Linked DNA regions of Homo sapiens: region 1 is linked to region 2. Evidence: fine-mapped expression QTL. A gene starts in region 2. The other region holds a variant in brackets. All regions are shown on one strand. Distances are from middle to middle.

Region 1 (14,477 bases), 22 kb after region 2:
GAAGGGGAGGGGATCAGATCTGGGGAGACACTTAGATTCTGCCACTTAGGACAGGACCATTCCTTTTTCTCTGAGCATCATTTTTCTCAGAGAAGTGGGGATGGCCACCCCTGCCTCAAAGAAAGACAGCCAGGATTCCTCATGTGATAGAATAGTACTCATAATAGGAAACATTTGAGGAGCTTGAACTGGGCGCCCAGCAAAGGCCACCCAGTTTAAGGAAGTGACATCACTTTTGCTTGCCTCCCATTGGCCCAAACAGTCACATGGCTACATTTAGCCTCAGAGGAGCCTGGGACATGTAGTCTTTGCTGGACACTGGAGACATGGCCTTGAGCAAAAAAGGCAAAAATCCACACTCTCTCTGGACATGGTGGGTCACACCTGTAATTCCAGCTACTTGGGAGGCTGAGGTGGGAGGATTCCTTGAGGCCAGGAGCTCGAAACTAGCCTGGGAAACACAGTGAGACTCACTGTCATGGAGTGGATGTTCTAATTGAGAGACCACAAGAAACACACAAATAAATACAGCACCTTATCACGGCCCATGAAGACTGCACCATCTGCCCCATCAGCTCCCTTGCCTGGTCTCTTTCTTGTTTTTGTTTTGTTTTGTTTTGTTTTGAGACGGAGTCTCGCCCTGTCATCCAGGCTGGAATGCAGTGGCACGACCTCAGCTCACTGCAACCTCTACCTCCCAGGCTCAAGCGATTCTCCTGCCTTAGCCTCCCGAGTAGCTGGAACTACAGGCACACGCCACCATGCCCGGCTAATTTTTATATTTTTAGTAGAGATGGGGTTTCACTATGTTGGCCAGGCTGGGCTTGAACTCCTGACCTCAGGCAATCCACCTGCCTCGACCTCCCAAAGTGCTGGGATTACAGGCATGAGCCACTGTGCCCGGCCTGCCCCTTCTCTTTCACCCACCCCCTCGCTCACTCTTCCCCTTGCTGTCTGGTAGCCTCAAACACCAGGCACTCTGCAACCTCAGGGCCTTTGCACATGCAGTTCCCACTGCCTGAATGCTTTTCCCACAGACACCTGTGTGGTTCACTTTCTCCCATCATTAGGTCTCTGCTCAGACATCACATCTCCAGGAGGCCTACCCTGAGCTGTCTAAAATCCCTCCCTGTCACCCAGATCCCTCTGCTCCTCCTCCCAGCTCTGCCTCTCCCTGTGGCATGTATCACCTTCTACTCTCTCATATGATTTACTTATTTCTTCTGATTATTGCCCATCTCCCCCAAGAGAATGTCAGCCCCACGAGGGCAGGGATTTTGTTCTCTCTTCTTCATCCTTGTGTCCCCAGCCCCAAAGCAGAGCCTAGCGCACAGTAGGGGCTCCATACATGATTTCTCAAACTCTTGAGCTCAAGCAATCCACCCGCCTTAGCCTCCCAAAGTTCTGGGATTATAGACATGAGCCACTGCACCCGGCACCATACATGATTTCTGGGGTGACTGAAGGATGCCCTTGTTAAATGGGACAATGGAAGGATCAAGAAGAAAGAACAGAGGCCGGGCATGGTCTTTCATGCCTGTAATCCTAGCAATTAAGGAGGCCAAGGCCAGCGGATCACTTGAGGTCAGGAGTTCGAGACCAGTCTGGCCAACATGGTGAAACCCTGTCTCTACTAAAAATACAAAAATTAGCCAGGTGTGGTGGCAGGCGCCTGTAATTCCAGCTACTCAGGAGGCTGAGGCAGGAGAATCACTTGAACCCGGGAGGTGGAAGTTGCAGTGAGCTGAGATCCCGCCATTGCACTCCAGCCTGGGCAACAGAGCGAGACTCCATCTCAAAAAAAAAAAAAGACCAGAGAAGGGTGACAGAGCCGTGGTCAGGGAATGCCCCTCGTCAAGGAAGAATGACATTTCTGCAGAGCCCTAGGTGGGCCTGCTTGTCCTCCTTACCCCCGCCACCAGCCTCGTCCTCCCCAGGTGCCGCCTGCCCCTGTCAACAAGGACGACTTTGCCCTGGTCCAGCGGCCTGGCCCGGGTCTGTCTCAGGAGGCCGCCCGGCGCTATGGTGAACTCACCAAGCTCATACGGCAGCAGCACGAGGTGAGGGGGAGGCCCCCAGCCCATCCCCCAGGAGCGTGACCCTCCTTCCCCTCTCTTCCCTTCCCTCGACTCACTGCCTTCTGTTTCCCCAGATGTGCCTGAACCACTCAAACCAATTCACCCAGCTGGGCAACATCACTGAAACCACCAAGTAAGTGCCCTGACCTGTGCCAGACACTTGCACCCCCAGCCACCCATCCCCAGGGCCAGGGACATGAGCAGGGCCCTCCCACCGGCAGGTTTGAAAAGTTGGCGGAGGACTGTAAGCGGAGCATGGACATTCTGAAGCAAGCCTTCGTCCGGGGTCTCCCCACGCCCACCGCCCGCTTTGAGCAAAGGACCTTCAGCGTCATCAAGTAAGGCTCCTGATCTACGCCCCACCACGTGGCCCCAGTGGCCCTTTGGTGGCGGTGGGGCGGGTTGTGCTCCCCAGAAGCTGGCACAAGATTTACATCTGGAAGAAATTTTGGATAGGTGGAAGAGCACAGAGCATGCAAAGGCTCTGGGGCAGGCATGAGATACAAGTGAAGGATGGTGAGGGTGCAGTCACAGTGACGCATTTGGGAAAGATCTAGAGAGTGCAAAGGTGTATCTTGTCCCAGGGCCTGGGTGAGTCCACGGGGGACCAGAGATGAGTCACGGCTTTGGTGGGTGTTAGTCTTGGTACTATCAAGTCTTCCCATGCCCAGAGGAGCGGGGATTGTTTTCTCCACTTTATTTTTATTTTTATTTTGAGACAGAGTCTCACTCTGTTGCCCAGGCTGGAGTGCAGGGGTGTGATCTCTGCTCACTGCAAGCTCCACCTCCTGGATTCATGCCATTCTCCTGCCTCAGCCTCCCGAGAAGCTGGGACTACAGCCGCCCACCACCACGCCTGGCTAATTTTTTGTATTTTTAGTAGAGACGGGATTTCACCGTGTTAGCCAGGATGGTCTCGATCTCTTGACCTCGTGATCCGCCCACCTCGGCCTCCCAAAGTGCTGGGATTACAGGCGTGAGCCACCACTCCCGGCCTTTTTTAAAATTTTTTTTCTGAGACAGTCTCACTTTGTCACCCAGGCGGGAGTACAGTGGCGCAATCTCAGCTCACTTCAACCTCTGCCTCCCAGGTTCAAGCAATTCTCCTGCCTCAGCCTCCCAAATAGCTGGGACTACAGGTGCCCACCACCATGCCCAGCTAATTTTTGTATTTTTAGTAGAGACGGGGTTTCATTCAGTTGGCCAGGCTGGTCTCCTTAAATGATCCGCCTGCCTTGGCCTCCCAAAATTCTGGGGTTACAGGAGTGAGCCACTGCGTCCGGCCCATTTTCTCCACTTTCTAAATGAGGTTAGGTGCAGCCACTAGCCCTCCGGTGGTTCCCAGCTGCCCTTGGGATAACCCCCACCCCTTACCCTGGCTCCCCCATCTCCACACAGCCTGGCTCCTTGTCACCTCTTCTCTGCCTCCTGTCCCCGCTTCACTCAGCTTTGGCCACAAGGGACTCTTTTTGGTCCCTCCTACAAACAAAGTGTGTTCCTACCCCAAGCCTCTGCATCAGCTATTTCTTCCGCCTTCACCCTCTTCCTCAGGTCTCCATGTGGCAGCTCCCTCTTGACATCTAGAGTCACCTATGATGTCACCTTCCCTCTAAGAGGCCCTCCCTATCTATCCGAGCAGTCTCTTCTGAGCACACTCCACTCTCCCCTCTCTGCTGAGTTTTTTATTGTTTTTCTATTTATGTACTTATGCTCATCTGTCCACTCAGCTAGATTGAGCACAGGGTATGGGTATTTACTTCTAGATCCCCAGCAGCTAGGGTACTGACTGGCACATAGTAGGTGCTCAAGAAATATTGTGAAATGAGGCCAGGCGTGCTGGCTCACGCCTGTAATCCCAGCACTTTGGGAGGCTGAGGTGGGTGGATCACGAGGTCAGGAGATCGAGACCATTCTGGCTAACATGGTGAAATCCCGTCTCTACTAAAAATACACAAAATTATCCGGGCGTGGTGGTAGGCGCCCATAGTCCCACCTTCTTAGGAGGCTGAGGCAGGAGAATGGCATGAACCTGGGAGGCAGAGCTTGCAGTGAGCAGAGATCGCACTGCACTCCAGCCTGGGCGACAGAGTGAGACTGTCTCAAAAAAAAAAGAAATATTGTGAAATGAATAGAAGGTCCCCCAGCAACTAGGACACTAGCTGGTGCTTTAATAGGACTCAAAAAATATTAAGTGAGGCCAGGCTGGGAGGCCAAGGCAGGCGGATCATTTGAGGTCGGGAGTTCGAGACCAGCCTGGCCAACATGGTGAAACCCCATCTCTACTAAAAATATAAAAATTATCCAGCAGTGGTGGCGGGCAGCTGTAATCCCAGCTACTCAGGAGGCTGAGGCAGAAGAATCTCTTGAATCTGGGAGGTGGAGGTTGCAGTGGGCTGAGGTCGTACCATTGTACTCCAGCCTGGGCGACAGAGCAAGACTCTGTCTAAAAAAAAAAAAAAAATATATATATATATATATATATATATACACGTATATATATGTGTATATATATATACATATATGTGTGTATATATATATATACGTATATATATGTGTATATATATATATATACACGTATATATATGTATATATACACACACACACACACACACACATATATATTAAGTGAAAAGAAGGTCCCCCAGCAGCTGGGGTACTGGCTGGCACATAGTAGGTGCTCAAGAAACATTGGGAAATGAAGGAAAGATCTCCCAGCAGCTAGGGCACTGGCTGATGCTTAGTAGGACTCAACAACTGTTAAGTGAAGGGAATATCACCCAGCAGCTAGGGTACCTAGCACACAGTAGATACCAAATAAATATACACAGACTGAAGAAAAGACTCGAAAGTGATCCATTGCCAACCTGAACAGAGAACTCTAGTCTGTCTGATTCTAAAATGAGCCCAGGAGCTGAGACACCCCCGAAGGCCAGGGTGGGGTTTGTTCCCTGCCCCCACTGGGGGAAGAGAAGGCAGGCGGGCAGTGGGACTGAGGTGCCTCTGTTTCCCTGCCCACCTGCCTGCCCACCTGCCCACCCGGAAGGATCTTCCCTGACCTCAGCAGCAACGACATGCTCCTCTTCATCGTGAAGGGCATCAACTTGCCCACACCCCCAGGTGAGGGGGCTGTAGGCAAGGGTCAGGGTCATGGGGACCCCCTCTCTGCCCAGCTCTGACCGTTGTTTGCCCACAGGACTGTCCCCTGGCGATCTGGATGTCTTTGTTCGGTTTGACTTCCCCTATCCCAACGTGGTACGTGGGGAGCTGAGGAGGGGAGGGCTGCAGCCTCAGTGGGCCAAAGCCAGGTCCCAGGCCCCCTAGATTTCCTGCCTCCTCTCTGGTCATAGGAAGAAGCTCAGAAAGACAAGACCAGTGTGATCAAGAACACAGACTCCCCTGGTGAGCCTCGGCTGGAAGCACCCTACCCCTACTCCCTTGCAGCAGAAGGGACATAAGACAATGGCCTGACCCCACCCAACTTCCTCTCCCTCCTTCCTCCTGCAGAGTTCAAGGAGCAGTTCAAACTCTGCATCAACCGCAGCCACCGTGGCTTCCGAAGGGCCATCCAGACCAAGGGCATCAAGTTCGAAGTGGTTCACAAGGGGTGAGCTAGAGAGAGCCATGGCCGCTGGGTGGGCTCCAGGGGAGGGGAGCTCCTCTGAACCAACCATCCTGTCCCCACTATACACACATGCACACAGGGGGCTGTTCAAGACTGACCGGGTGCTGGGGACAGCCCAGCTGAAGCTGGATGCACTGGAGATAGCATGTGAGGTCCGGGAGATCCTTGAGGTGAGAGGTGGACATTCATCCGCGTGCTCCGGTATGGCCATGCTACTCGTTAACATTATTAAAACACTTCCTGCCTTGAGCCCTCTATGAGCCTGTCTGTTGACCCAGCCCCTCCCCTCAGAGCCTCAGACCTCCCTACTGCCCAGCCCTAAATACTTGCAGTACCCCACTCCATTATGATCAACTGGTATCTCAGCCATACCATGGGCTCATATTTTAGAAACCACTCTTGGCCAGGCATGGTGGCTCATGCCTGTAATCCCAGCACTTTGGGAGGCTGAGGCGGGCAGATCACGAGGTCAGGAGATCGAGACCATCCTGGCTAACATGGTGAAACCCTGTTTCTACTAAAATACAAAAAAATTAGCCAGGCATGGTGGCGGGCGCCTGTAGTCCCAGCTACTCGGGAGGCTGAGGCAGGAGAATGGCGTAAGTAAACCCAGGAGGCGGAGCTTGCAGTGAGCCCAGATTGCACCACTGCACTCCAGCCTGGACAACAGAGCGAGACTCTATCTCAGAAAAAAAAAAAACCAAAAAAAAAAACCAGTCTTGTTCTCCCTTGTCCTGGCCCTGGGCCTCTAGTCACTTCCTGCTTCCCACCAACAGTTTCTCCTTACCCCCACCCAGGTCCTGGATGGTCGCCGGCCCACAGGGGGGCGACTGGAGGTAATGGTCCGGATTCGGGAGCCACTGACAGCCCAGCAGTTGGAGACGACGACAGAGAGGTGGCTGGTCATTGACCCTGTGCCGGCAGCTGTGCCCACAGTGAGACCCCCCACCCCCACCCATCAGCAACCCCAGGGAGGGAAGCTTGGTTCAGGGGCCCAGGACTCACAGGACTGGTTCTCTCCTCTGAAGCAGGTTGCTGGGCCCAAAGGGAAGGCCCCTCCTGTGCCTGCCCCTGCAAGGGAGTCAGGGAACAGGTAGGTATCTGGGCCAGGGCATGCTGGAGAAAACACCCAATTCCCCTCTCAGCCCCACCTGGACAGTTTCCCACCAGGCACAAATTGGACCACGTCCCTCTCCTGCTGCAAAACCTTTCTTGGCACCCCTTTTCCCAGAGGATCCAGTTTAAACTCCTTGGTTTGGTCTTTAAAACCTTTTGTGATCTGACCATTGTCAACATATCCAGGCTTCTCTCTCCCTACTCCCTCCTGTGGTTCATGTCCATGAATAGTTTTCACTGGCCTCTGGACTTCTGTGGGTTCCAGTGCCCTGAACACCCCTACCTAGGGTAGGGGTGTTCCTTGTTCCTCTGCCCACCTCTGATTCCTTCTTTGGATCCCAACTTGGCTGTTACCTCCTCCAGGAAGCCCTCCCTGACCACTAGGCATCATAGTTTCCTGGGTGTGCAGCCATCATCCCCGCTAGGTTTTGGGATCAGTAACACCGGGTGGTTCTCGGCTGTCTCCCACCATACCCCCAGTGCCCAGTGTGTCTTTTTTTTTTTTTTTTTTTTTTGAGACAGAGTCTAGCTCTGTCGCCCAGGCTAGAGTGCAATGGCGCGATCTCAGCTCACAGCAACCTCCGCCTCTGGGGTTCAAGCGATTCTCCTGCCTCAGCCTCCTGAGTAGCTGGGATTACAGGCATGCGCCACCACACCCAGCTAATTTTTCTATTTTTAGTAGAGATGGGGTTTCTCCATGTTGGTCAGGCTGGTCTCGAACTCCCGACCTCAGGTGATCTGCCTGCCTCGGCCTCCCAAAGTGCTGGGATTACAGGCATGAGCTACCATGCTCGGCTTTTTTTTTTTTTTGAGACAGAATCTTGCTCTGTCACCCAGGTTGGAGTGCAGTGGTGTGATCTCGGCTCATTGCAACCTCCAGCTCCCAGGTTCAAGCAATTCTTCTGCCTCAGCCTCCCAAGTAGCTGGGACTACAGGAGCACACCACCATGCCCAGCTAATTTTTTTTCTATTTTTAGTAGAGACGGGGTTTCACCATATTGGCCAGGCTGGTCTCGAACTCCTGACCTCATGATCCACTCACCTCCGCCTCCCAAAGTGCAGGGATTACAGGCGTGAGCCACTGTGCCCAGCCCAGTGTGTCTTTTGAATTAACAGGGTTGGGCTGGGGGAATCTCTGCAGTCCCTTATCCTTCCTCCACCCCTTAGATCAGCCCGGCCCCTGCATAGCCTCAGTGTGCTGGCGTTTGACCAAGAGCGTCTGGAGCGGAAGGTGGGTATCCATCCTGCCGGGCTACATGGGGCAGGACTGGGGAGTCTGCAGGCCCAGGCAGGATCCTCACAGGACCCTCTGTATCCTCTAGATCCTGGCCCTCAGGCAGGCGCGGCGGCCGGTGCCCCCAGAAGTGGCCCAGCAGTACCAGGACATCATGCAACGCAGCCAGTGGCAGAGGGCACAGCTGGAGCAGGGGGGTGTGGGCATCCGACGGGGTAGGGGTTTGGAGATGGGCATCTGGTGGGGGAGGAGCTCCAGGATAGGCATGGGGGGGGAGGTGCTCAGGGATGCATATCTGGTGGGGGAGGGGCTCGGGGATGGGCATCTGGAGAGGGAGGGGCTCGGGGATGGGCACCTGGAGGGGGAGGGGCTCGGGGATGGGCACCTGGAGGGGGAGGGGCTCGGGGATGGGCATCTGGAGAGGGAGGGGCTCGGGGATGGGCACCTGGAGGGGGAGGGGCTCGGGGATGGGCACCTGGAGGGGGAGGGGCTCGGGGATGGGCACCTGGAGGGGGAGGGGCTCGGGGATGGGCACCTGGCGGGGGACGGGCTTGGGGATGGGCACAGTCCAGGAGGGTTGTGGGCAGTGAGGCCCCACCCTAAGCCTCCATTCCCCCGCCATCCATTCTCAGAATAC[G/A]CAGCCCAGCTGGAGCGGCAGCTGCAGTTCTACACGGAGGCTGCCCGGCGCCTGGGCAACGATGGCAGCAGGGTGAGCTGGTCGCGGGCCGGGTGGGCACTGGGCAGCGGGCAGGGTGGGGCCTGCAGGGACTACCTGCTGAATGCCCATCCCCCACAGGATGCTGCAAAGGAGGCGCTCTATAGGCGGAATCTGGTAGAGAGTGAGGTAAGCAGCTTAGGAGATGGGGTGGTTGGGGGATCACTGTGGTCGTAGCCCACCTCCATGACCCCAGTGGCCTCCTCTCCCCCAGCTGCAGCGGCTCCGCAGGTGAGGAGCCCATGGGGCGGGCAGCCCCCAGAAAGCGGGCAGCAGGCCCCGATACCGGGAAGAGCCGACACAGCCACGAACCAGACAAGCAGACAATCAGCGGACAATCGGTTCTGGACTCACCCCTCATCCGGGCCCCCAGCCCCGCCAGAGCCTCCGTGGCTGCGGGTGTTGGGAACCATGCCTGCCAGCCAGTATGTGCCCCTCACCCAGGCCTGGCTGGGCCCTGGAGAGTCCTGTTTGCACAGCCCAGGGGTGTCCGGCCTCTGGCCCGCCCCGGAGCAGGGAGGGTGGCTGGGGCCAAGCCCCGAGGGCCCCTGCAAGCACTTTACTTCCTGTTCCTCCCCAGCCTTAACCCCAAAGCCCTCCTGCACCCCAAAGAAGCCACTGAGGCTGGCCGAGCCACACTGTCTCCCCAGGGGCGTCGACCTGGCCCAGCTGGGTCCCCAGGGCCAGCACATGGAATAAAATAGCCAGGGCCACACTCAGCCCAGCTCTGTCCTGTCTGTTTCTTGCTCAGACCCTCGGTGGCCAGGCTAGGTCTTCCCACCCACCCCCCGGTTCCCCTGGAAGTGGATGGGGAGGCGCCTGTTAGGGAAGCAGTTTTGGGGAGGGACAGTGTGCTTGTGAAAGGTGCTTTTTTTTTTTTTTTTTAGAGACCGGGTTTCCCTCTGTCACCCAGGCTGCAGCGCAGTGGCACAATCAGCTCATTGCAGCCTCCGACTCCTGGGCTCACATGATCCTCCTGCCTCAGCCTCCTAACGGATTACAGAAGGGCACCACCACACACCCAGCTTGAAGGATGCATTTCATTCCCATGCTTGCTGTGGGGGGGGATACATGTGAGGGTCCCTATATCTGTCACCCAGTGTTTTTTCAGTGGGTGGCCTTGGGCGTCCCTGCAATCACACGTGGCTAGGTCGCACAGGGTGCTGTTTGGTGACCCCAGTGTGTGCCTCAAGACCTCAAAATTCAGTCCTGACCCACTTAGCATCCCAGAGCCTCAGTTTCCCCAGCTGGACTGGTTGTGGGGAGGAGTCCGTGGACAGAGCCCCCAAAGGGTGCCTGGTCCGTGCTGAGTGCTGGAAGGGTTTGGCTTTATTGTTGCTGCCTCCATCTGTGTTGGGAGTTTGGGGTAGGGTGTGTCCCGCCAGGCCGGCGTGGTCTGTGAGCCTGGAGTATGCCAGCTGTGTGCCTCTGTGTCTCGGCCAGTGGCAGGCAGAGCAGGCCCAGCCCTGGAGGCCCAGGAGAGCCAGACCAAGGGCCCCTGGTGGGCGTTGTCTCCTCAGTCCACGGCCCAGCGGAGTCCCAGGAGTCTGAGCTGCTCTGCTGGGCCTCTCTAGGATCAGGGGCCCCCTGCCCGTGGCCCACGTGGGGTGGTGGGAGGCAGCCGGATCAGGACCTGCTCCGGATTCCCTGCCGTGTCCACCACACGCAGGTTTGGGAGCCCCAGGAAGGCCTCAGCCGCGATGCTCGTCATGTGAAGCCTGTTGGCCCTGCACAGAGAGGCGGTCATGACCCTCCCAGGCCCTCCCCTGCCCACCTCCACCCCTCCGGTCACCCTCGGGGCACCTGAGGAAGAGGGCACGCAGGCGGGGTGTGCTGAGGAAGGCCTCGGGGCCCACGTGGCCGATGCGGTTGCCCTCGAGGTGCAGCTCCTCTAGGGCCTCAGGCAGGTCCGGGGGCACAAAGGACAGCTCATTGTGGCTGAGGTCCAGCATCTGGGCAGGGGGTTATAGATGGCATCGTGGCAGCCCCAGGCCTGGGCCACTCAGCTCAGCCAGCCCCCAACCTCTCTGAGAGTCCCCTGCCCCCTTCATACCAGCCTGGCCCTTCTGCCCCCCACCCCCCATGATTGCCAAATTCCTCCCTTCTGCAGAGGTAAACTAAGGCCCTTCCCAGGAAGGCACAGACAGACAGGTCCCCACTTGATTAAATGAGTCAGTCATTGAATCGCACCATACCTCTTTCATCACTTTTTTTTTCAAGAGACAGGGTCTTGCTCTGTTGCCCAGTCTAGAGGGCAGTGGCCCGATCACGGCTCATTGCAGCCTCAAACTTCTGGGCTCAAGCGATCCTCCTGCCTCAGCCTCCTGAATAGCTGGGACTACAGGCATGTGCCACCACGCTTGGCTATGTTTTTTTGGTAGAGATAGGGTCTTGCTGTGTTGCCAGGCTGGTCTCAAACCCATAGCCTAAAGCGATTCTCCTGCCTTGGCTCCCCAAAGTGCTGGGATTACAGGCATGAGCCACCTCACCCAGCCTCCTCATCACCTTCTAACCCACTCTTATCATTTTCTTGTTCTGATTGCTTTACCAGCTAACTAGAATGTTTGGGACGTGGCAGGGCAGGCAGGGGGATGGAGGGGCCCTGGGGACAGTGTGGCTAACCAGCCTGTGCCTGACCTGGAGGGCTTGGAGCTCATGCCAGGTGCCTGGCCCGATGTCGCCGACCCGGAGCCGGTTGTGCGCCAGGCTGAGCTCCCGCAGTTGGTCCAGGCCGGCCAGAGGCTCGGGCTCGAGCATCCGCAGCTGGTTGCGTTGCAGCTGCAGGGTGCGCAGGCCAGTGGGCAGGCCCATGGGCAGCCGGGTTAGCTGATTCCCTGCCAGGTCGAGGCTGCGCAGGGCACGCAACCGGCGGAAGGCCCGGTGGTGCACACGGGCGCTGGCCAGGCGGTTATAGGCCAGGTTAAGCTCCGTCAGGCCCGGTGTGGCGACCAGGTCACGGGCACCCAGCGCGGCCACGTGGTTGTGGGGCAGCACCAGGGCACGCAGGCGGCGGGGCAGGGCTGGAGGCACGCGGTCCAGCCCATTGCCATAGAGGTGCAGCGTGTGCAGGCCCCGCAGCGGCCGCAGAGCCCCGGCGGGCAGCCCTGAGCTCCCCAGCTGGTTGTGCTGCAGCAACAAATAGCGCAGACCACGCGCCCCGTGCAGCCGAGCCGCCTCCACCTGCCGGATGCGGTTGCGGCCCAGGTGCAGGATAGCCAGGGTCCGGGGCAGGCCGGCGGGCACTGTGGTCAGCTGGTTGTGGGAGAGATCCAGGTATTCAAGGCTATGCAGCTTGCTGGAAGGAGAGAGGGTCGGTGTTAGGTGGGGCACTTGGAGTGGGGTGCCTGACAGATTTTGGCGGGGAGGCTGGGGAGTGGTCCTGAGACAGATTTAAGCTGGAGATTTTGACTTGGGAGTGATGCGTGGAGAGAGCTGGGTGGGAGGTAAACTTGGGGTGCCCAGGGCAGATTCCAGCCTGAGAGTTAGCTATGGGGGTGACCAGGGTAGAGCCGAGATGGAAAGGCATGTGAGACTTACGATGTCAGTGCAGGGCTGTGGGGAACAGGGACACCTACCCAGTGCTCTGCCGAGCCCAGTGAGCAGCAGGCACTCAGTAAATGAGGCCGTGGCTTAGGAGCCAGTCAGGGAAGGGGGACTGAAGGTTGGGACCCCCGACTGTAAATTCTCAGCCCCTGCTGCCCCCCAACCAGCCTGTACCTGAAGGTGGTGGCATCCAGGCCACTGTCTGTCAGCTGGTTGTGCTGGAGGTAGAGCTCACGGAGTTGAGTCTGGCGGCTCAGGGCTCCTCGGGGCACCTTGGAGATGAGATTGTTCTGGAGAAGGAAGAAGAGAATGAGACTTGAGTCTGGGATGAGGGCAGCGGGAAGCCACAGACGGCTCTTGAGTAAGGGAGTGACGAGGAGCTTGCCTTGAGCTCAAAGCGATTTCCAATAAAGTGATTCAAAGAAGGATAACTCTGACCACTGGCATTCTGAGGGGCAATTGAGAAGAATGGAAAGCTAGGAACTGGAGGGGTCCCCCTGGAAAGAGGTGAAGAGAGTCTGGCCCGGGGTGGGACCTACAGCAGGGCTACCTGCAGGTGGAGCCGCTCGAGTGAGGGCGGCAGGCTGGGCGGCAGGTAGCTGAGCTGGTTGTTGGAGAGGCTGAGGGTGGCGATGGCCTCGGAGCCGCGGAAGGCGTCGGGGGGCAGGCCAGCGTTGCTCAGCTGGTTGTTGTGGAGGTACACGGACCTGAGGAGAGCCAGGCTCCGGCCACCAGCCTGCCCCTCGCCTCCTACCACCCCACTCCCGCACCACACCCTGCTCAGGGTCGCCTTCAGTGTGTGTGTGTGTGTGTGTGTGTGTGTGCGCGCGCATGTGTGGAGTCTGTGTGGGAATGTAATTGTGTATGTGTGCATGTGACTGTGCGTAGGTGTGCAGGTGAGTGTGCATGTGTGTTGTATGAATAGACGTGTGTGCATGTGTGAGCAGTGTGCATGTGTAAGTGTAATGAGTGCATATGTGGAGTGTGTGTGCACGTGTGTATGTGATTGTAAGAGTGTGTGGGCGTGCATGTGTGTATGTATATGCAAGTGTGTGCTATGTGCCTGTGCATAAGTGTGCATGGGTGAGTGTGTGCATGTGATTGTAAGTGTGGGTGTGCATGTGTGCATGCCTGTGCATAAGTGTGCATGTGATTGTGTGTGTGCAGCCGAGTGTGCAACTGTGTGTATGCATGTATGTCCATGTGTGCATGTGATCATGTGCAAAAGTGTGAGCATTGTGTACATATGTGCATGTGTGTGCTTGTGTGTGCATGTGATTGCGTGTGCATGCATGAGTGTGTGCCTGTGTGCATGTGGTTGGAAGTGTGTGCAGGTGTGTATGTGAGTCTGTGTGTGTGCTTGTGTGTGCATGTGATTGTGTGTGCATGAGCATGTGTTCATGTGGTTGTGTGTGCAGGTGTGTATGTGAGTCTGTGTAAGTGTGTGTGTGTGTGTGTCCCTGCACATACTGTCTCCACCTCAGTCTGGAGTTCTGACACAGCATACAGGGCCCTGTCTCCCCGCTCACTCTCCTCCCAGGGTAGAACTATGCCCTCTTCCCACTCCCCAAGGCTAGGGATCTGTCCCTGGTTAAGCCCTCCAGGGCAAGGCATTTTGTTTCTGTTTTTGTTTTTAATTTTGAGACAGAGTCTCACTCTGTCGCCCAGGCTTGAGTGCGGTGGCACGATTTCGTCTCACTGCAAACTCCACCTCCTGGGTTCAAGCCAGTCTCCTGCCTCAGCCTCCTGAGTGGCGGGGATTACAGGCGCACACCACCACCCCCAGCTAATTTTTGTATTTTAAGTAGAGACAGGGTTTCATCATGTTGGCCAGGCTGGTCTCGAACTCCTGACCCCAGATGATCCTCCCACCTTGGCCTCCCAAAGTGCTAGGATTACAGGAGTGAGCCACTGCACCCGGCCGAGGGCAAGGTCTTAACTCCCTCATTGCTCCTAGAACCGGGGCATGACACAGATGTATCTGAGGCCTGGGGGCCTGGGCTGGGCCAGGGTCTACCTGAGTGCCGGCTTCTCCCCAAAGGTGAGGGGGAAGATCTCCATCACTTGGTTGGCAGCCAGATCCGCGACACGGAGGGACCGGGGCAGAAACTGAGGGGCCACTGAGAGCTGTGGGGACACAGCCCACAGCCGGACTGGTCCTGGTGCGCC
Region 2 (14,477 bases):
AAAAAAAAAAAGAATAACACTATCCAAACCCCAGATGGACTCTTTCCAACCTCAGCTCTACATTACACACTTACACATCGTGAAGTAAACCTACTGAATGAGTCTCTCTTTCCTCGACGCCAATTGCTAGGGTCTGCATCAGTCCCCATTCAGCTGTTTGCCCTCCACTAAACCACAGCAATCTTCCTGTAATTGCTTCTAATTCTTCTTCTTCTTCTTTTTTTTTTTTTTTGAGATGGACTCTCGCTCTGTTGCCCAGGCTAGAGTACAGTGGCATGATCTCAGCTCACTGTAACCTCTGCCTCCTGGGTTCAAGCAATTCTCCTGCCTCAGCCTCCTGATTGGCTGCGACTACAGGTGCAAGCCACCATGCCTGGTTAATTTTTTTGTATTTTCAGTAGAGACGGGTTTTCACCACGTTGGCCACACTGGTTTTGAACTCCTGATCTCAAGTGATCTGTCTGCCTTGGCCTCCCAAAGTGCTGGGAATGCAGGTGTGAGCCATGGCGCACGGTAAGTTGCTTGTAATTCTGTCAGTTACAGTTCGGGAGTGCCCGTTTAGAACTTTATCCCACTGCTGTGTATTTGCTTAGCTCTCGCTGAGAGAAGCATTTTCCTTTGTCCTCTGACTACAGCTGGAGGATCTCCAGGGCAGGAACTGAGTGCAATGCACCCTTTGATCTCCCCTTCGCCCTGCCCTGCCCCATCAGGTGCCCACCTCAAAGGATGTACCACCACAAGTAAAGCTCCGATGGACATTGCTTATAGAAACACATTCCTAACCGTCCGGGTGCAGTGGCTCATGCCTGTAATCTCACCACGTTGAGAGGGTGAGGTGGGCAGATTGCTTGAGGTCAGGAGTTCAAGACCAGCCTGGCCAACATGGTGAAACCCTGTCTCTACTACAAATACAAAAAATTAGCCAGGTGTGGTGGTGGGCACCTGTAGTCCCAGCTAATCAGGAGGCTGAGGCAGGAGAATCACTTGAACCCAGGCGGCGGAGGTTGCAGTAAGCCAAGACTGCACCACTGCACTCCAGCCTGGGTGACAGAGCAAGACTCTGTCTCAAAAGAAACACGACCTTGTGGTCTGCCAGAAAAGACAAAATATAGCTGCTTTGTTTATTTGGTTTCTTGAGATTCTCAAACACTTGCTCACTTGGCTGACTGAATGGCCATTTGTACCAAATAAAAAGCAAAAAAATATCAATGGCATTGAAGAGTCTTCTCTTTCCTTCCTGTGATCTGTCCACATGGGACTAATTTAAGAAAAAATAAGGCAGAACCTTGTGTTCGACACCAAAGACTAAAGACATTGGGAGGGAAAAGGCCTCTTTCACCACCTGCCAGAATTTTCTTCCTCTCTCTCCACCCTTCCAGCACACACAGAAAGGGTTGTCCAGGGCCAGCCCAGAGGTCCACTGAGCTGGGGAGTCTACCGCCAACAGAGGCCCCAAGTGACCTGCTGTGGGTGGACCTGGCTGTCCCCAGCTTCCCCCTCCAAGGTCAGAGAAATTCTGATGCCTCCAAGCAGCCTGTTGCTCATCTCTGCACAAAACATGTTCAATCTGCTGATCATTTCCTCTCCTGTCCCATATCTTGGGGGAAAAAACATGCACACCATTCCCTAAATTCATCAGCCACTAAATTAAAAAGTCATTTCAAAATTTTGAAGAAATTTAACTTACTTTAGAAAATGATAGGCAAATGGAACTCTACTACATCATATTGGGAGTTTGTCTTTCTGACTTGGTTTGTTCCTTTTTTTTTTTAGACAGAGTCTCACTCTGTCGCCCAGGCTGGAGTGCAGTGGTGCAATCTCAGCTCTCCTGGGCTCAAGCGAGTCTCGTGTCTCAGCCTCCCAAGTAGCTGGGATTACAGACACATGCCACCATGCCCGGCTAATTTTTGTGTTTTTAGTACAGATGGGGTTTCACCATGTTGACCAGGTTGGTCTCGAACCCTGACCTCAAATGATCCATCCACCTGCCTCGGCCTCCCAAAGTGCTCAGATTACAGGCATGAGCCATCGTGCCCAACAATCTTTCTTTTTTTCTAAGAGACAGGGTTTTGTTCTGTGGCCCAGGCTGGAGTGCAGGCGCAATCATAGCTCACTGCAGCCTGGAACTCCTCAGCTCAAGCCATCCTCCTGCCTCAATCTCCCAAGTAGCCAGGACTACAGGTAGGCACCACCACACTGGTTAATTAAAATTTTTTTTTTTTTTTAGAGACTGGGTAACATTATGTTGCTCAGGCTGGTCATGAACTCCTGGTCTCAGGCAATCCTTTCACCTCGGCCTCCCAAGTAGCCTGGAGTACAGGTGCGTACCACCAAGCCTGGCTATTTTGGGGTGTTTTTCTTTTCAAATGATGAAATTGTATAGGTATGTTGACAAGTAAACATGGTCATGATCTACCACAAAGTGAAAAATGGAGGTTGCAGATCAGTAAGTGTGATGATTCGATTTTCCAATAAAAACATTTTATCTGGGCCAGGCACGGTGGCTCATGCCTGTAATCTTTGGGAGGCTGAGGCAGGCGGATAACTTGAAGTCAGGAGTTAGAGAGCAGCCTAGCCAACATGGTGAAACCCCGTCTCTACTAAAAATGCAAAAATTTGCCAGGCATGGTGGCAGGTACCTGTAATCCCAGCTACTCAGGAGGCTGAGGCATGAGCATCACTTGAACCCAGGAGGCAGAGGTTACAGTGAACCAAAATCGTGCCACTGCACTCCAGCCTGGGTGACAGAGTGAGACTGTCTCCAAAAAAAAAAAAAAGAAAAAAGCTCAACACTGTATCTGTATATATACAGAAAAAGTCTGACCAGGCATGGTGGCTCATGCCTGTAATTCTGAGCACATTGGGAGGCCAAGGCAGGTGGACTGCTGGAGCCCAGAAGTTCAAGACCAGCCTGGGCAACATAGTGAGGCCTCGTCTCTTCCAAAAAATACAAAAATTAGCCAGTCATGGTGGCACACACCTGTAGTCCCAGCTATTCCGGAGGCTGAGGTGGGAAGATCACCTGAGCCTGGGGAGGTCGAGGCTGCAGCGAGCTATGATTGTGCCACTGCTCTCCAGCCTGGGCGACAAAGCAAGACTCTGTCTCGAAAAAAAGAAAAAAAAAAAAGCTGGGTATGGTGGCTCACTCCAGTAATCCCAGCACTTTGGCTGAGGCGGGCAGATCATGTGAGGCCAGGAGTTCAAGATCAGCCTGGGCAACATGGTGAAACCCCATCTCTACTACAAATACAAAAATTATCTGAGCGTGGTGGCAGACACCTGTAATCCCAGCTACTCAGGAGGCTGATGCAAGAGAATCGCTTGAAACCAGGAGGCGGAGGCTGCAGTGAGTCAAGATCGTGCCACTGCACTCCAGTCTGGGCAACAGAGTGAGACATCATCTTAAAAAAAAGTCTGAGCTGGGCGCGCTGGCTCATGCCTGTAATCCCAGCACTTTGGGAGGCCGAGATGGGCGGATCACCTGAGGTTGGGAGTTCGAGACCAGCCTGACCAACATGGAGAAACCCCATCTCTACTAAAAATACAAAAAAATTAGCTGGGCATGGTGGCATATGCCTGTAATCTCAGTTACTTGGGAGGCTGAGGCAGGAGAATTGCTTGAATCTAGGAGGCAGAGGTTGCGGTGAGCCGAGATCGCGCCAGCCTGGGCAACAAGATCAAGACTCTGTCTCAAAAACAAAAACAAAAAAGTCTGGGCTGGGCGCGGTGGCCTACTCCTGTATCCCCAGCACTTTGGGACACCAAGACGGGCAGATCACCTGAGGTTGGGAGTTCAAGACCAGCCTGACCAAACCCTGACTCTACTAAAAAAATACAAAAATTAGCTCAGCATGGTGGTGGGTGCCTGTAATCCCAGCTACTTGGGAGGCTGAGGCAGGAGAATCGCCTGAACTTGGGAGGTGGAGGTTGCAGTAAGCCGAGATCGCGCCACTGCACTCCAGCCTGGGCAACAAGAGCGAAACTCCGTCTCAAAAAAAAAAAAAAAAGTCTAGAAGCAGTGTACCGAGGTTAGAGTCCTGTCCTGTTTTTCATGCTGTTCTACAGTTGATCACTGTCCTATGGCTATGCTAGATGTCAACATTAGGGAAAGCTTGGAGAAGGGTAGCTAGAACTCTCTGAATTATTTTTGCAACTTTTCTTTAAGTCCCAGATTACTTCAAAATAAAAGTTTTCTTAAAAGTCTGGAAGAAGAATTGTTAACAGCAGTGTACATTTGTGTACTACCTTAGGTCAGTTCTGGGTGCTTTACAGATACTAATCCACATGTGAGCTCTAAGGGCAGGATTCTTCACCTTGGAGGACATTTGGGGCTGGATCATTCTCTGTGGCTGGGGGGCATCCTATGCATGGTAGGATATTTGAGCAGCATCCCTGGCCTCCACCCACTAGATGTCAGTATAATTTCCCCAGTTATGAAAACCAAAAAAAGTCTCTAGGCCGGGCACGGTGGCTCCCACCTGTAATCCCAGCACTTTGGGAGGCTGAGGCAGGCAGATCACCTGAGGTCAGGAGTTTGAGACCAGCCTGGCCAACATTGTGAAACCCTATCCCTACTAAAAATACAAAAATTAGGCGGGCGTGGTGGTGCACATCTGTAGTCCCAGCTACTTAGGAGGCTGAGGCTGCAGAATCGCTTGAACCCAGGAGGTGGAGGCTGCAGTGAGCCAAGATCTTGCTACTGCACTCCAGCCTGGACGACAGAGTCAGACTTGGTCTCCAAAAAAAAAAAAAATAAAGTCTCCAAACATTGCCAGCTGTCTCTGGAGGTCAAAATCCCTTCCTCTCACCTAGTTGAGAAACACTGCTCTAAAGGAAAGGGTAGTGGCTTTTATTATCCCCAATTTACAAAAGGGGAAACTGTGGCACAGAGGAAATCATCCACCACCACACACTGAGCAGAACTGGGATGAACCCAGGTTTTGGGCCCCAGAGTAAAACACTCAGCCACATACCGAGTGGCCTTGTAGTACATCAAGCATTATTCCAGGGGTCATCTCTGGGACTGGTTCCGCAGGGAGGCTGTCCCGCTGCCCTGAAGCCCGGGGAGGCCTCCTCTAAGCTGTGGGACCCCACCAGAGGCTTGCAGAAGCTCCAGAAAACTTTCACTTTTACTTTTCCTGTATGCCCTCTCCGTTATTTCTATTTTTCTTTCTTTCTTTTTTTTTTTGAGACAGGGCCTCAATCTATCAGTCAGGATGGAGTGCAGTGGTACGATCTGGATTCACTGCAACCTCCACCTCCCAGTTCAAGCAATCTTCCTGCCTCAACCTCCTGAGTAGCTGGGACTACAGGTGCCTGCCACCACGCCCAGCTAATTTCCTTACTTTACATTGTAGAGACAGGATCTCGCTATGTTGCCCAGGCTGGTCTTGAACTCCTGGACTCAAGCGATCCGCCCACCTCGGCCTCCCAAAGTGCTAGGATTACAGGCGTGAGCCACCACACCGGCCTTCTATTTTTCTTACCAGCATGAATTAAATCCTTTTTGTCTTTTTCTTTTTTTTGAGACAGAGTCTTGCTCTGTTGCCCAGGCTAGAGTGCAGTGGCACCATCTTGGCTCACTGCAACATCGGACTCCCAGGTTCAAACGATTCTCCTGCCTCAGTCTCCCGAGTAGGTGGGACTACAGGCATGTGCCACAACACCTGGCTAATTTTTGTATTTTTAGTAGAGACGGGGTTTCACCATGTTGGTCAGGCTGGTCTTGAACTCCTGACCTTGTGATCTGCCCGCCTCGGCCTCCCAAAGTGCTGAGATTACAGGTGTGAGCCACCGCACCCGGCCAATCCTTGCTTCCTTTTAAGGAGGTTAAGGCAGTCGTGTTAGCCAGATCTGCAATAAACAAGCCCACATTCTTCCCACAAGCAGAAGCAGAAATCAACAAGTGTCCATTTGAATGAACGTACCTGAGGTCCGCAGCTTCTTCCTCTTAGTCATTTTATCTTCCCCTTGAGAAATCTGAAAACAAGCAAAATCTCTCATCATTATAAGCAGTCTCTGTCTCTGTTTATATCCAGTGGCTTTGGCTGAGAGCAGAGGTTACCCCTACCTCCACCTCAGCCCATTTGGCTGCCCCAGGGGTCAGATGGCTCCCACTGGGACACAGGATGGGACACAGAGTCACAGCCACTTTGGGCCATGGCCAGGTAGGAATTCAAACCTCCTCCAAACTGAAGATCTTATGCCCAGGACCTGAAAGACAAATGGGCCCTGGGGGGTCCTTATAGATAGCCCCGGGGACCCAGACTCTGGTCCCTAGGATGAAACAGCCTGTGTGAAGCCCCTCCCTCCAGACTGGGGTATCTGGGGGCCCTTCCAAGGACACTTGAGGACTCTCCAGGGGCCTCTGGAGACCAGCCTGGCCAATATGGTGAAACCCCCTCTCTATTAAAAACACAAAAATTAGCCTGGGCATCGTGACGCACACCTGTAATCCCAGCTACTTGGGAGGCTGAGACAGTAGAATTCCTTGAACCCATGAGGCAGAGGTTGCAGTGAGCCGAGATCGCTCTACTGCACTCCAGCCTGGGCGACAGAGCGAGACTCCGTCTCAAAAAAAAAAAAAAAAATTAGTCAGGTGCGGTGGCACACACCCGTAATCCCAGCTACTCAGGAGGCTGTGGTACAAGGCCAGGAGGCAGAGGTTGCAATGAGCCAAGATCGTGCCACTTTAAAGGGGACAGCTGGGTCCTTGGAGGGGAAAGAGCTGCCATAGGCCGGTTTCTCCCAGCCTTGGGGGCGAGGCAAACCAGAACGGACCTGGGCCACAGAAGTCGTTGAGGACCCTCTGTCCTTATCAGAAACGAGCTCTGCCTGGATCAGTTGGGAATAAGTCGCTTGAATTATCCGCGTTACTCTTTTTGGAAAAAATAAATGGCCAAATTGGCCCTCACAGAACGCTGGAGGCCTCGAGTCCGGAGGTGAAAGATGGAAAGGCCTGAGGGTGGGCGCTGTAGACCCCGCTCCCGGTGACAAGCCCCACACTGACACTACGCCGACCACCGAGAAGTGAGGACTCCACAGGCCGAGAGCCCACGTGAAGCCGGAGCCCGTCGGTGACTGACAGACGCTCTGAACCCCACAGATGTCGCCGCCCCTCACACCTGCGCGCGCTCTGCCTCTTTCCCGCGCCCCGCGAGGTCCCGCCCCGCGCATGAGCGACGCAAACACCGCCCTCGCAGCCCGCGACAGTCAGCACCGCCCCAGCCAGGCGCCTGCGCGCCCACGCACTACCTGCCGGGAGTTGTAGTTTCGGCTCGGCAGACCCGGCGAGCCCAGTGGCCGCGCTCCGGTGCGGCGGCGCCCGAGGCCCGAGGCGGAAGTGGGACGGCCAAGCAGGGAAGCGAGGGCTCGGGATCGACGGCCGCGGGGCGCCGACGAGGAGTGCAGGACTCAGGAAGGGCGAGTGCGCGGCGACAGAGCCCGGGGAAGGAGGCAGGGCAAGGCCGGGCTTGGGGGCAGGTGGTCCGGGCATCCAGCCTTGAAGATGCACAAGAGGAAAGGACCCCCGGGACCCCCGGGCAGAGGCGCCGCGGCCGCCCGCCAGGTGAGTTTGCGCCCCACGGCCCGACCTGGGGATCCCTCCCCACCCCCGTCACTCGCTCAGGGAAGGGCCCCACCCCCCAGGGAAGCCCGATCTCCGCCCCACAGGTAAGCCCCGGTCCCCGCCTCCCCCCAGGTGAGGCTCCAACACCACCCAAGTGTGGCCTACTGGCCTTGGCTCCCCAGCTCCTGGGGCCCTGCCCCGGGTTCGGGGCCACCTGTTGCCACAGCTGCTCCAGTCGAGGAGGGGCAGTCCTCGGACTTGACACATCAAACCCTTGCATCAGTCGGGCCATGTCAGACTCTTTTTATTCCATTGTACAGATGAGGACTTTGAGACTCAGAGACGTGAAGACATCTGCCCAAGGTCATAGGGATTAACAGCTTGGCCAGGGCTAAGCACAAATCCAGGGCTGCAGCCATAAGCTTATGGCACTGTGGCTGGACCCCTTCTCACTCTCCCGACTTCTTTGCCCCAGGCACCAGATAGTTTGATTTTTCTCAGTTTTGATGGAAGGAGCCCAGGACATAGCTTGGTGTTCAGATATTAGAGTCTGGCTGACCTGAAGTTCCCTCCTGGCCTCTGTACATCGGACACTTGACTTTACAGCTCTGAGCCTCAGCTTTCTCATCTGTAAAATGGAGATCTCTATAATCCCAGCACTTCAGGAGATGGAGGCGGAGGCAGAGGTGGGAGAGTCATTTGAGGCCAGAGTTTGAGACCAGCCTGGGCAAAAGCAAGACCCCCGTCTCGACAAAAAAAGACTAACTGGGCATGGTGGCATGTGCCTGTAGTACTACTACTTGGGAGGCTAAGAAGGGAGGATTGCTTGAGCCCAGGAGTTCAAGACCGCAGTGAGCTATGATTGCGCTACTTCTGCTCCAGCCTGGGTGACAGAACAAGACTCTTTCTCTAAAATAAAGATAAAAAATTAAAAATGGAAGTCCGGGGTGGTGTCTCACACCTGTAATCCCAGCACTTTGGGAGGCCATGGCGAAACCCCATCTCTACTAAAAATACAAAAATTAGCTGGGCATGGTGGCGGGCACCTGTAATCCCAGCTACTCGGGAGGCTGAGGTGGGAGAATCGCTTGAACCGAGAGGCGGAGGTTGCAGTGAGCTGAGATCGCGCCACTGCATTCCAGACTGGGTGACAGAGCAAGGCTCCTTCTCAAAATAAATAAATAAATTCCTTCTGAAAATAAATAAATAAATAAAAAATTAAAAATGGAGACCTCCAAGAGACCCTACATTACAGGACAGTTGTAGAGAGTCATTGAGATAGTTTATGGAAAGTGCTAGAACATAGCACTCAATAAATGTTACTATTATCATTATTACTAGTTGGTGGAACCATACATAATTGCCAATATTTGGCCATTTTTTACCTACAGGAAAGGCAATTTCATATGGTTAAACACGATGTTATCACATCATGATTGGTCATTAGCCAAGATAGGAAGACGGGTCTGCATGGCAAACCTGCATTGTGGTTAGGGGTTCTTTTTTTGTTTGTTTGTTTTTGAGACAGAGTCTTGCTCTCTCGCCCCAGGCTGGAGTGCAGTGGCGCAATCTCGGCCCACTGCAACCTCCGCTTCCCGGGTTCAAGCGATTCTCCTGCCTCAGCCTCCCGAGTAGCTGGGATTACAGGCATGCGCCACCATGCCTGGTTAATTTTGTATTTTTTAGTAGAGACGGGGTTTCTCCCTGTTGGTCAGGCTGGTCTGTCTCGAACTCCCCATCTCAGGTGACCCGCCTGCCTCGGCCTCCCAAAGTGCTGGGGTTACAGGCGTGAGCCACCGTGCCCGGCCTAATTTTTGTATTTTTAGTAGTGATGGGATTTCACCATGTTGGCCAGGCTAGTCTCGAACTGCTGACCTCAGGTGATCCCCCCACCTTGGTCTCCCAAAGTGCTGGGATTACAAGCGTGAGCCACTGCACCTGGCCCTGTCGTCAGGGCTTCTAATTGCTCTTCTTTTTTTTTTGGAGACAGAGTCTTGCTCTGTTGCCCAGGCTGGAGTTTGGTGGCGCAATCTCAGCTCACTGCAACCTCCACCTCCCAGGTTCAAGCAATTCTCCTGCCTCAGCCTCCCGAGTAGCTGGGATTGCAGACACCGCCAGCACTCCCAGCTAATTTTTGTATTTTTAGTAGAGACGGGGTTTCACCATGTTGGCTAGGCTGGTCTCGAACTCCTGGATTACAGGCGTGAGCCACCGCATGCAGCCATCATGCTCTTGAAGCCCAACCTTCCCACACAGCCCCTCTGCTGAGGATGCTGGAAAGAAAAGCCCAAGTGTACAGAGTAGCTTTGCTTTGGGCAAAGTGTGGAGCCTGCTTCCTTCCCTCCTTCCCTCCCTCCCTCGCTTCCTTCTTTTTTTCCTTCCTTCCCTCCTTCCTCCCTCCCTCTCTCCCTCCCCGGCTCCATCTCTCTTTCTTTCTTTCCTTTCAACAGGGCTTTACTCTGTTGCCCAGGCGGAGTGCCGTAGCACAGTCATGGCTCACTGCAGCCTTGATCTCCCCAGGCTCAAGTGATCCTCCTGCCTCAGCCTCCCGAGTAGCTGGGACCACAGGCACACAGCACAACTCCCAGCTAATTTTAAAAAGTTTTTTTTCCTGTAATCCCAGCACTTTGGGAGGCCGAGGCGGGCAGATCATGAGGTCAGGAGATCGAGACCATCCTGGCTAACAAGGTGAAACCCCGTCTCTGCTAAAAATACAAAAAAAAAATTAGCCGGGCGTGGTGGCGGGCGCCTGTAGTCCCAGCTACTCGGGATGTTGAGGCAGGAGAATGGCATGAACCCCGGAGGCGGAGGTTGCAGTGAGCTGAGACTGCACCACTGCACTCCAGCCTGGGTGACAGAGCGAGACTCTGTGTCAAAAAAAAACAAAAAACAAAAAACTTTTTTTTTTTTTGTAGAGTTGGGGGTCTCACTGTATTGCCCAGGCTGGTCTGGAACTCCCAGACACAAGCCATCCTCTTGCCTTGGCCTCCCAAAGTGCTGGGATGACAGGCGTGAGCCACTGCGCCCAGCCAGGGGCCTGCTTTTCCCACTGAACTTGGCCCAGCAGCACATCATAAGTGTGGATTCAGATCAGAGAGCTGGGTCTCTTGCCCTTTGCCCCAGGTTGAACTGTGCCAGAGGGCCTGGCCTATCTTGGAACACCTGTTCTGGGCTTGTTCCAGCCTCCTGGCACTCCCCAGGGAAATGGCTTTCCCTGGGAGACCTTGTTTCCTTCCTCCCAAGGGGACTCTCTGGCCATCATGGCTGCCTCTAGCCATGTGGTGAACCAAAGGTCTGACTGAACCCTTGCTGTTCCCCTAGCTGGGCCTGCTGGTTGACCTCTCCCCAGATGGCCTGATGATCCCTGAGGACGGGGCTAACGATGAAGAACTGGAGGCTGAGTTCTTGGCTTTGGTCGGGGGCCAGCCCCCAGCCCTGGAGAAGCTCAAAGGCAAAGGTGAGATGGTTAACACACCCTCAGAACATTTTCTGATCTCCTGCAAGTGGTTCGGGCGCAGAACTGGGGGCACTGGGTAGGTAGGGGAAAGAAGACAGAGAAGACCCCTGTTCTCCTGGAGCCAATGATCTGGGTAAGAGAGTCAAGATCGACTCTGAGGCCGGGCACGGTGGCTCACGCCTGTAATCCCAGCACTTTGGGAGGCCGAGGCAGGCAGATCATGAGGTCAGGAGATTGAGACCATCCCGGCTAACACGGTGAAACTCTGTCTCTACTAAAAATACAAAAAAAAAAAAAAAATTAGCCGGGCGTGGTGGCGGGCGCCTGTAGTCCCAGCTACTCAGGAGGCTGAGGCAGAAGAATGGCGTGAACCAGGGAGGCGGAGCTTGCAGTGAGCCGAGATCGCACCACTGCGCTACAGCCTGGGCGACAGAGCAAGACTCCGTCTCAAAAAAAAAAAAAAAAAAAAAAAGATCAAGTCTGGACCGAGACTGAGAGTTGGAATCCGAGCTCTGCCACTTACTGGTTATGTGACTTGATGAGTCACATCATGTGCTTTGGCCTCAGTTTCACCATCTGTAAAACTGGAATAATAACCATGTTATAGGAGTTAATCTGGAGTCCATAAGTATTTCACCCAGGGCCCCCTCACACACAATAAGCTCATGTCAGCCAGGCACATTGGCTCATGCATGTAATCCCAGCACTCTGGGAGGCCAAGGTGGACAGATCACTTGGGGCCAGGAGTTCGAGACCAGCCTGGCCAACATGGTGAAACCCTGTCTTTACTAAAAATACAAAAATTAGCCAAGCTTGGTGGCGAACACCTGTAATCCCAGCTACTTGGGAGGCTGAGGCATGAGAATCGCTTGAATCCAGGAGGCAGCAGTTGCAGTGGGCAGAGATTGCGCCACTGCACTCCAGCCTGGGTGACAGAGCAAGATCCTGTTTCCAAAAAACAAAAAAGAGAGAAGCTTCATTCAGGCATGAACTACTGTGCTGTTGGCTGTGAATTCAAAGTTAATGAATGAACGATATCTATTCAGGAAGGTGTCTTCAAACAGAAACACACATAGAGCAAGGTTGTGTATTGATCAGTTGATTAAAATTTTGTGACCAGAGCTGGGTGTGGTGGTGCATGCCTGTAATCCCAGCTACTCGGGAGGCTGAGGCAGGAAGATCACTTGAGGCCAAGAGTTTGAGGCTGCAGTGAGCTCTGATTGGGCCACTGCACTCCAGCCTGGGTGACAGAGCAAGATCCTGTCTCCAAAAAAGGTTATGACTGGAGATTCACAGGAACCTAAGCTTAAATTTCCCCTAGGAGCAACAGTCTTATAGTCATTAATTTAGTCTTCAAAGCAGCTTTATAGAATGTAACATAACTAATAACAAGATATTGGCAATATGCTATTCTAAGAGCTTCATTGACCTTCTCTGCTCCAACCTACCTATGAAGGAGGAACTGTTGTCATCCCCGTGTCACAGAGGGAGAAACTGAGGCTCAGAGAGGTGACATCACTTGCCGAAGTTCTCACAGAGAGAAAGTTGCAGAGCTGGGGTTTTTTTTGTTGTTGTTGTGTGTGTGTGTTTTTTTTTTTTTTTTTGGAGACAAACCCTTGCTCTGTTGCCCAGGCTGCAGTGCAGTGGCGCAATCTCAGCTCACTGCGACCTCTGCCTCCTGGGCTTAAGTGATTCTCCTGCCTCAGCCTCTTTAGCAGCGGGGATTACACGCCACCATGCCCAGCTAATTTTTTTTTTTTTTTTTTTTTTTTTTTGAGACGGAGTCTCGCTCTGTCGCCCAGGCTGGAGTACAGTGGCGCGATCTTGGCTCACCGCAAGCTCCGCCTCCTAGGTTCACGCCATTCCCCTGCCTCAGGCTCCCGAGTAGCTGGGACCACAGGCGCCCGCCAGCATGCCTGGCTAATTTTTTGTATTTGTAGTAGAGACGGGGTTTCACCGTGTTAGCCAGGATGGTCTCGATCTCCTGACCTTGTGATCCACCCGCCTCGGCCTCCCAAAGTGCTGGGGTTACAGGCGTGAGCCACTGCGCCCAGCCTAATTTTTGTATTTTTAGTAGAGACAGGGTTTCACCATGTTGGCCAGGCTGGTCTTGAACGCCTGACTTCAAGTGATCCTTCTGCCTCGGCCTCCCAAAGTGCTGGGATTATAGGCGTGAGTCACTGTGCCCGGTCTGCAGAGCTGGGTTTTGAATTCAGGTAGCCAGGCCCCAGACCTGAGGCTGAATAAGGAAGAGATGAAATGGGGAAGTCAGCGAGAAGTGGGATCACCTAGCGTGTCCAGGATGGGAAATGGGGGCTCTTGGTGTACGACCCTGGTCCACCTGGGGCATCCCCCTACCGCCAGGTCCCTTGCCGATGGAGGCCATTGAGAAGATGGCCAGCCTGTGCATGAGAGACCCGGATGAGGATGAGGAGGAGGGGACGGATGAGGACGACTTGGAGGCTGATGATGACCTGCTGGTGAGCACTGAGGGCGGGGTGGGGGCTCTGATCCGGTTGCCCCCATCCAGCAGGCCCTTATATCCTGCCCTGGCTGTGTGTCCCTGCAGGCGGAGCTAAATGAGGTCCTTGGAGAGGAGCAGAAGGCTTCAGAGACCCCACCTCCTGTGGCCCAGGTACAGTTTGGATGACTCCACTCCCTTGAACCACAACCCAACGGACAGCCCGGGGTTCAAGACCTAGCCTTTTTTATGAGATGGAGTCTTGCTGTGTCACCCAGGCTGGAGTGCAGTGGTGCCATCTCAGCTCACTACAACCTCTGCCTCCCAGGTTCAAGGGATCCTCCCACCTCAGCCTCCCCAGTAGCTGGGATTACAGGTGTGTGCCACCACGCCTGGCTAATTTTTGTATTTTTTGGTAGAGATGGTGTTTCTCTGTGTTGGCCAGGCTGGTCCTGACCTCAAGTGATCCACCTGCCTTGGCCTCCCAAAGTGTTGGGATTACAGGCGTGAGCCACCGCGCCTGGCCCACCCTTATCCTTCACAGCCATGTGACCCATATCAGGTGGGTGACATGATGCTTCTGAAACCCCATTCCCTCCACTGGGAAATGGGGACCATGATTTCTGCCTCACTGGGGCAGGGGAGGCTGGTCCAGGGATGACATGGGGCCGACTGTTACTGCAGAAGGGGCTAACAGGGGCATCCCAAGTGGGGTCACCACCCACACTGTGCCCCTGCCCTCCCACAGCCGAAGCCTGAGGCCCCTCATCCGGGGCTGGAGACCACCTTGCAGGAGAGGCTGGCGCTCTATCAGACAGCAATTGAAAGCGCCAGACAAGCTGGAGACAGCGCCAAGATGCGGCGCTACGATCGGGGGCTTAAAGTAAGTGGGCAGAGGGCAGGGTACAGGGACCCCCCGCCAACCCCGATGCCCTGCACCAAGCTCTTGGCTTCTCCCAAACCAATACTCACGCCTTATCTTAGACACTGGA

Evidence for each region. PIP is the estimated chance that this variant, and not a neighbour inherited with it, causes the effect. A credible set is the group of variants that fine-mapping cannot tell apart.
Region 1: its variant is the best candidate, but not a certain one, in a credible set for the expression of CC2D1A in whole blood (INTERVAL, PIP 0.86).

The regions. Positions count from the first base shown.
Region 1 is chr19:13,921,396-13,935,872 of GRCh38, forward strand. CC2D1A (coiled-coil and C2 domain containing 1A) reads left to right here. Exons shown (of 29, transcript NM_017721.5): 15 at 1,938-2,060; 16 at 2,153-2,211; 17 at 2,300-2,416; 18 at 5,122-5,195; 19 at 5,272-5,330; 20 at 5,426-5,477; 21 at 5,583-5,682; 22 at 5,780-5,870; 23 at 6,498-6,635; 24 at 6,729-6,793; 25 at 7,984-8,047; 26 at 8,139-8,265; 27 at 8,683-8,759; 28 at 8,847-8,894; 1 more. The coding sequence ends at 9,000. It overlaps PODNL1 (podocan like 1), which reads right to left. Exons shown (of 10, transcript NM_001370095.3): 5 at 14,326-14,435; 6 at 12,859-13,015; 7 at 12,483-12,598; 8 at 11,403-12,060; 9 at 10,569-10,717; 10 at 9,792-10,492. The coding sequence ends at 10,342. Among named protein-coding and RNA genes, the nearest start is that of PODNL1, 9.8 kb to the right of the region's middle. RefSeq lists a silencer at 147-347. The variant G/A (reference allele first, on the strand shown) is at 8,688.
Region 2 is chr19:13,898,935-13,913,411 of GRCh38, forward strand. CC2D1A (coiled-coil and C2 domain containing 1A) reads left to right here and starts at 7,267. Exons shown (of 29, transcript NM_017721.5): 1 at 7,267-7,567; 2 at 10,889-11,024; 3 at 13,389-13,504; 4 at 13,594-13,659; 5 at 14,234-14,368; 6 at 14,470-14,477. The coding sequence starts at 7,508. It overlaps BRME1 (break repair meiotic recombinase recruitment factor 1), which reads right to left and starts at 7,183. Exons shown (of 9, transcript NM_001345843.2): 1 at 6,781-7,183; 2 at 5,928-5,979. The coding sequence starts at 5,958. RefSeq lists a silencer at 7,582-7,641.